2 linked regions of the Homo sapiens genome follow. The protein of the gene in region 1 purifies or fractionates together with the protein of each later gene. This does not show direct contact. Each region holds a gene or a part of one and is shown in the gene's direction. Other genes may lie near its edges. The genes, in order: TTBK1 and NUP205.

What was found.
Region 2: the proteins of TTBK1 (region 1) and NUP205 purify together in Homo sapiens (affinity purification with mass spectrometry, with the first as the bait; one large-scale study listed by BioGRID). This does not show direct contact.

The regions. Positions count from the first base shown.
Region 1 is NC_000006.12:43,256,749-43,260,562, forward strand, and holds part of TTBK1 (tau-tubulin kinase 1), read left to right. Parts: intron 1-1,063; coding exon 1,064-1,218; intron 1,219-2,289; coding exon 2,290-2,521; coding exon of another isoform or gene 2,522-2,782; coding exon 2,783-2,958; intron 2,959-3,814. UniProt on the Homo sapiens protein: Serine/threonine kinase which is able to phosphorylate TAU on serine, threonine and tyrosine residues. Induces aggregation of TAU.
Region 2 is NC_000007.14:135,564,324-135,568,137, forward strand, and holds part of NUP205 (nuclear pore complex protein Nup205), read left to right. Parts: intron 1-3,814. UniProt on the Homo sapiens protein: Plays a role in the nuclear pore complex (NPC) assembly and/or maintenance. May anchor NUP62 and other nucleoporins, but not NUP153 and TPR, to the NPC.

The DNA.
Region 1 (3,814 bases):
ATAAACAAAAACAATTAATGAAGCCAAATGCTTTTAAGTACTTTACATGAAAACTCTGCGGGAGGCAAGTGGGATGATCATGCCCATTTCATAGATGAGGGAACTGAGGCCCAATATAGTGGTTAGGAGCAGGGCTGGGCTCAGGCACATCTTCTGACTCCGAGTCCAGGGCTCTTTCCAAGCGTCCATCACCACACCCCATGGGACCCACTGACCCTGATCAGAGAATGGGGGAAACATCAGCAGTGTTCTGCCTGGGATCCACTACACGCCAGGCACGATGCTGCATACTGTAGGAGTAGAGACAGCCTGAGGCACACAGGATGCACTCAATTAAGCCGGTCCTCTCAGCAGAGAGAAACTGCCCTGTGCTCTGGAGACAGCCAAGCCAGAAGTGGAGTGTTCTGGGGACCTCAGAGGGTCTATAGCTGTCTGCCACCTCCTGAACCCAGGGCCTGGCAGAGACGCCCCCTGATCTTGGCTTAGCCTCATGGGATCCCCAAAGCCACACAGCTGCGAGCACCCCCCAGGCTGGGGCCCTGTGCTGGCTGCTAGGGATGCAGAGTTGACAGATAGGCATGTGGACAATTCAAACTGATGCACTGTGCCCTGTAGGGCAGCTGTATGGTGGAGAGAATTTACGGTGAAGAGAAGGGAAGCTGCAGAGAGGAGAGGATGAGTGGGAGGGGCGCCCCAGCAGAGGGGCAGTCTGTGCAGAGGCAGCACCCCATGCATGGGTTTGGAAACTCCCAGTGGTTTAGGGTTGCTGACATGGTGGAAATGGCAGAGGAGGTTTGAAGATGGTAACCAGGGGACAGATCTCAGAGGGTTCATGTCCAGTCAGTGGGGCTTAATCCAAGATGATAATTTGCATGTTGATTTGCATATCATGTGCATGTTTTCATTTAAAATCAATGTGCCGTTCTCCTTCCAATGCCCCCTCCAGGCCCATTCCTGTCCTGGAAAGTCCCTGTCTTCCTCCTATGATCCCAGCAACTGCCCCTTCCTCCTGGCTAGCCCCCGGATCACCTCTCTGTCCTCCCATCACCCTCACCCCCTGCAGTTGATCATGTCAGTGTTTGAGAACAGCATGAAGGAGAGGGGCATTGCCGAGAATGAGGCCTTTGACTGGGAGAAGGCAGGCACCGATGCCCTCCTGTCCACGAGCACCTCTACCCCGCCCCAGCAGAACACCCGGCAGACGGCAGCCATGTTTGGGTGAGTCTCAGGAAGGCGAGCCACCAGCCCCTGCCTGGAGCTGTTACCTAAGAGGGCAGGCGGTCCTCTCCTCTCCTCTCTTCCTATCTGGACACACTTGGCTATCTTTCCTATCCTTAGTGGAGTTCTGGGACTTTGGGAAACTCTGCCACATCTCCACCCTCAATCTGAGCATAGAGTGGGCATCTTCCTCATTTGGAGTTTTTAACCTTAGTGGGTCCCTGGGGGAGCAGGGAACCCTAAGCGAAATTACCTGAGCCCCACAGTTTATCTGTTTCTTATCATTCATATGCATGAATTTAACAGCCATGTCCTGAGGCCATACACCTGAAAGTTACAGCTCCTGCCCCCAAAGCACTCTCAGCTGAGTCTGGGATGTTTGAAATCGATGGGTCAGCAATTTCAGAACCATGTGACAGGCACAAAGACAGAGGTGGTCGAGGGAGGAGCTGGAGTTAGAAGGGGCTCTCCACCCAGCCCCAGGAGCAAGCCAAGGAGAGAGGTGGGCAGGGGCTTCAGGGGACACATTTAGGAAGGAGACTTAACAGGAGTTGGTAGCACATTACAGTGCCCAGTTCCATACAGACATTGCTTAAAGAACTCGAAAGTTTAATCATCAAAGAAGATTAAATAAAAAAAAAATTTAAGTGTATATTCAGGGCAACTTCAATCTATGCTCCCAGACTGCAAAATAATAATAAAAGAAAACTAAATTTAAAAGGATCTCCAAAGTGATTCTCCTTTTTAGACCCATTCCTGGGTCTAAAGGAAGCCAGACAGTGAACGCCAATGGAAATCTGGCAGGTCCTTGAACGACAGCAGGATCCACTAAGTCAACAGAGCTAGATGGCTACATCTCCTTGTGGCCCCTGCCAACTTGAGGGTCGTCTGGTCTCAGAGGCTTTGTGGGCCAGCAATGGTGATGGGCCTAGGGACACTCTCACCCCTGACGGGACTGCCTCTGTGCCCGCTCCTGGGGGTGGTCTCCAGGTCTGTGCTGGTAGGAGAGGGCCATGGAAGGAGAGGGCACCCCTGCCAGCCTTGCCCATGGCTCCCTCCTGCCCTCTCCAGGGTGGTCAATGTGACGCCAGTGCCTGGGGACCTGCTCCGGGAGAACACCGAGGATGTGCTACAGGGAGAGCACCTGAGTGACCAGGAGAATGCACCCCCAATTCTGCCCGGGAGGCCCTCTGAGGGGCTGGGCCCCAGTCCCCACCTTGTCCCCCACCCCGGGGGTCCTGAGGCTGAAGTCTGGGAGGAGACAGATGTCAACCGGAACAAACTCCGGATCAACATCGGCAAAGTAACTGCCGCCAGGGCGAAGGGCGTGGGTGGCCTTTTCTCTCACCCCCGATTCCCAGCCTTGTGCCCCTGCCCTGTTCCTCCTAAGCACCCTGTCCCCGGCCATCTGCCTGCTTGCCCTGCCTCTGTTTCCCGGTCCCTCCCCGCACTAGCCTCGCTGTGTCTTCCATCATCATCATCCTCTGTCTCCTTCACCCTGAGGAGACCATCCGCCCACAGCCGCCTCATCAGCCCCAGCTCATGGCACTCCCCTCTCCTGCAGAGCCCCTGTGTGGAGGAGGAACAGAGCCGAGGCATGGGGGTCCCCAGCTCCCCAGTGCGTGCCCCCCCAGACTCCCCCACAACCCCAGTCCGTTCTCTGCGCTACCGGAGGGTGAACAGCCCTGAGTCAGAAAGGCTGTCCACGGCGGACGGGCGAGTGGAGCTACCTGAGAGGAGGTGGGTCTGGGGCCAGGGGCATGGTTGGGGCCCAAGGCCCTCTCCGCCTTCACGTGGCTGGTCTGGAGGAAAAGTTAGATGTGTGGCGGAGGTGGGCAGACCCTGGGAAGTGCTGAGAGGGTTATACTTGGGCCTGGGGTCAGACTCAGTTGGGGCCAGAGACAGGGCCTGGGAGAACCAGTGGGGGATCCAGAGAGGTCCCGGCTCATGCCAGGAAACGTAATTGGGTGAGTGCAGGCTGCAGGAGGGACAGGTGGGGCGCCTGGGCCCAGGAAGGGTGAGGGGCGAGTTGGTTGGTGGGTGTGTGTGCTTCCAGAATCTCTTCTCCTAGAGACTAATTATAGACACTTCAAGTGCAGCTGAGGTAGGCTCTCTTCAGCTTTGGGGGAGGGGGCCTGGGAATTGCTGGAAGAGAGAGCAGGGCAAGTTTTGGGGGTTAGGGCTGAAGGATCTGAAGTCACAGAGGGGAGGGGACCAGCGGGAACCTAGTTGGGGAAAAGGAGCATTGAGAAGCTAGGTGAGCCTTTAGGAGGTGAAGATGGGAGGGTGGGAGAATGGTCTGTTGACCTCGGATGGTGGGTGGACAACAAGGGCCAGGGCCCGGTCCCCATCTGTGCTGGTGGTGGGTGGGACAACATCAGGTGGGGAGGCCCCTGAGAGATGTTTCCATCTTCCCTTGGCCTCTGAGTGGGACTTCACTCCACAGTAGGACTGGGGCCTTCTCTGCACCAGAAAAGGGGTCTCTTCCAAAGACCCAGTCCTGGGGATAGGAGGGGTATCCTTTCTGGCATCCACTCTGTGTGTCTCCTTGTGAGCAACCTCAGTCCTTACACACTCACACAGGTTGGCTTACGTA
Region 2 (3,814 bases), on another chromosome or scaffold:
GCAACCTCTGCCTCCTGGGTTCAAGCAATTCTCCTGCCCCGGCCTCCCAAGTAACTGGGATTACAGGTGTTAGCCACCATGCCCAGCTAATTTTTTTGTGTGTGTTTAGTAGAGACAGGGTTTCACCATGTTGGCCATGCTGGTCTTGAACTCCTGACCTTGTGATCTGCCCACCTCGGCCTCCCAAAGTGCTGGATTACAGGCATGAGTCACCACGCCCGGCCTGTTTTTTTTTTAAATAGAGACAGGGTTTTGCCATGTGACCCAGGCTGGTCTTGAACTCCTGCACTTAAGCTCCTTGAACCTTGCTTGGGAGGCCTACCTCAGCCTCTCAAAGTGCTAGGATTACAGGTGCGAGCCACCTTGCCTGGCCCTTTGATGCTATGTTGATATTAATGACGAACTAAGTAGGCCAGTGAACCTGTTTTTTTATTGTTGAGTTTTTTTGTTTGTTTGTTTTTTGAGATGGAGTCTCACTCTGTCTTCCAGACTGGAGTGCAGTGGTGCGCTCTTGGCTCACTGCAACCTCTGCCTCCAGGTTCAAGCGATTCTCCCACCTCAGCCTCCTGAGTAGCTGGGATTACAGGTGCACGCCACCATGCCTGGCTACTTTTTAAAAATTTTTTGTAGAGACAGGGTTTTGACATTTTGGCCAGGCTGGTCTCGAACTCCTGACCTCAAGTGATCTGCCCGCCTTGGCCTCCCAAAGTACTGGCATTACAAGTGTGAGCCACTGCAGCCGGCCTATTGTAGAGTTTTGATCTTTAATTGGATGCCTACCATTATTGGGGGAAAAATTGGATTTTTCTCTACCATTCACTGAGCTTATTACACTAAATATGTATAGTACAAGGAAATTTATTGGTTTTTCAGAGGTCCTACTGTATATTAATATTTAAAATGAGGGAGAGAAAATTAACTTTTGTCAGCACTTTATCAGATTTCTGAAATGTCTGTGGTAAGGTATATTTCAGATTTGCATAGGAGTCATCATTAATACCTTCCCTTTATACCATGTGCCATTTGATGACCAATTCTGAGTCCTTTCTGTTACTAACAGACCTTTTCTTCCTCCTGTACTGCCCTCATCCTAGTTTAGGTTCCATTTTCTTATTTTTTTTTTTTTGAGATGGAGTTTCGCTATTGTTGCCCAGGCTGGAGTGCAATGGTGTGATCTCGGCTCACTGCAACCGCCACTCCCAGGGTTCAAGCTATTCTCCTGCCTCAGCCTCCCGAGTAGCTGGGATTACAGGCACCTGCCACCATGCCTGGCTAATTTTGTATTTTTAGTAGAGATGGGGTTTCTCTATGTTGATCAGGCTGGTCTCGAACTCCCGACCTAAGGTGATCTGCCCACCTTGGCCTCCCGGTTCCATTTTCTTATAAGTGGCTTACTTACCTCTTATCCTTGTTTCCTGACACTGCCTGTTCTAGTCCATCAACCACACTAGAACACCATTTTCCTACAATGCCAGTTTCATTTTGTCATCTGCTACTGGAAACTTTGCCATTTACTAATAGGAAAAATTCCATCATGGCCCTGGAATCCAAGGCTGAAACCTACTCTATCCTTTGCAGTTAGAGAGAGGGCCAAGAAAATGATCCTGAGGGAAGTCATCTAGTCACCAGGATCTAGGTCCTCATTTTGGCAGGCAGAGAAATCTGATTTTTTTCAGTGTATCCAGAGTTGATTAGGTCCCATTCATTGATTATTCTCTAATCAAATTCAGAAAAGACAGATACATAAACCAGTATGCCAGTTATTGCTCTTTTTTATTTTATTTGTTTATTTATTTGTTTTTTGAGACAGAGGCTTGCTGTGTTGCCCAGGCTGGATGGCAGTGGTGTGATCTCGGCTCACTGCAACCTCTGCCTCCCAGATTCAAGAGATTCTTGTGCCTCAACCCTCCTTGTAGTTGGATTTACAGGTGTGCATCATTGCACCTGGCTAATTTTTGTATTTCTAGTAGAGACGGAGTTTCATCATGTTGGCCAGACTGGTCTTGAACTCCTAGCCTTGGCCTCCCGAAGTGCTGGGGTTACACGGATGAGCCACCACCCCTGTCTGCCAGTTATTGCTCTTTAATGGGAAGTATGTCTGCATAGGTACTCATGTTGCCTTGTCAACACATCCTTCATGCTAGAAATTTATATGTCGAGCTATATTTTTAATCAGAAGATTGGAAAGTGTGGGACTAAAGCAGGAGAAGCAAAGCAGGGAATTGGATGATCTGTCTATGTAAGGAAGATCTAGACATGCAGATTCCTCACATCCCCACATCAAAGACCTGACGCTTTGCATCCTTCCCTAATCTTCAGATTAGTTTAGGCTCTTTCTTTCATGTACTCTCATAGCCCGTTGTACTTCATCATATCTTTTATTATACTGATATCTTTGGAATTATTTGTTTTTTCGTTTTGTTTTGTTTTTTGAGACGGAGTCTTGCTCTGTTGCCCAGGCTGAAGCGCAGTGGCGCAATCTCGGCTCACTGCAACCTCTGCCTCCCAGGTTCAAGCAATTCTTCTGCCTCAGCCTCCCGAGTAGCTGGGACTACAGGTGCGCACCACCATGCCTGGCTAATTTTTGTATTTTTAGTAGAGATGGGGTTTCACCATATTGGCCAGGTGGCTGGTCTCGAACTCCTGACCTCGTGATCGGCCCACCTCGGCTTCCCAAAGTGCTGAGATTACAGGTGTGAGCCACTGCACCCGGCCTGGAATTCTTTGTTTAATGTCTGTCAGTCTTATCAATTTGTAAGTTCCATGAGGCTTGGGATTCTGTCTGTCTTGCTCAGTCTATGTGTGTATATATATATATATATATATATATATATATATATATATATATATATATATATGTATATATGGTCCCTCAGTAAATATTTGATAGTGAATGAAAGTATGAATAAATAATCCATCTCCACTGGTTTAGTCCGTCCTCTCCCTGCACATCTCCCTTTAAAAAATTTTTTTTTCAGGCTGGGTGCAGTGGCTCATGCCTTTCATCCCAGCACTTGGGAAGGCCAAGGTGGGCAGGGTAGATTGCTTGAGTCCAGGAGTCTGAGACAAGCCTGGACAACATGGTGAAACCCTGTCTATACCAAAAAAAAAAAAAAAAAAAAAAGCAAACAAACAGAAATTAGGTGGGTGTGGTTGCATACCTGTAGTCCCAGCTATTCAGGAGGCTGAGGGGGGCAGTATCTCTTGACCCCAGGAAGTTGAGGCTACAGTGAGCTGAGATGGCACCACTGTACTCCAGCCTGGGTGACAAAGTGAGACCCTGTCTCAAAAAAAAAATGTTTTTAAATTACATTGCGTCATCTGACGTTGTTCATTGAGTTATAATGTATTTAATTACATTACAGTTATCTTTCATGTTGTTCTTATATCCTGGTAACTTTATTTGGATTTGGGTTTTCTCAACAGTTTACCCTGTTTACAGTCTTTAATGTTTAGGCTATAGTTAGTTCTAAGTTTCATCTGTTGAGTAATTGGTTTTGACCAGTTTTTCCTTCAGAGTCTAAACACATATGAGTACCTTATCTGCTTATTTCCAAACAGAAACCTTTGGCTTTAGAGTCATATTTTTTAAATGGTGAGTCTAAAATCAGTTTAGTAGGGGCCGGGCGCCGTGGCTCATGCCAGTAATCCCAGCACTTTGGGAGGCCGAGGTGGGCAGATTGCTTGAGGCCAGGAGTTCAAGACCAGCCTGGCCAAATGGTGAAGCCCCATCTCTAATAAAAATACAAAAATTAGACGGGCGTGGTGGCACGCCTGTAATCCCAGCTACTCAGGAAGCTGAGGCAGGAGAATC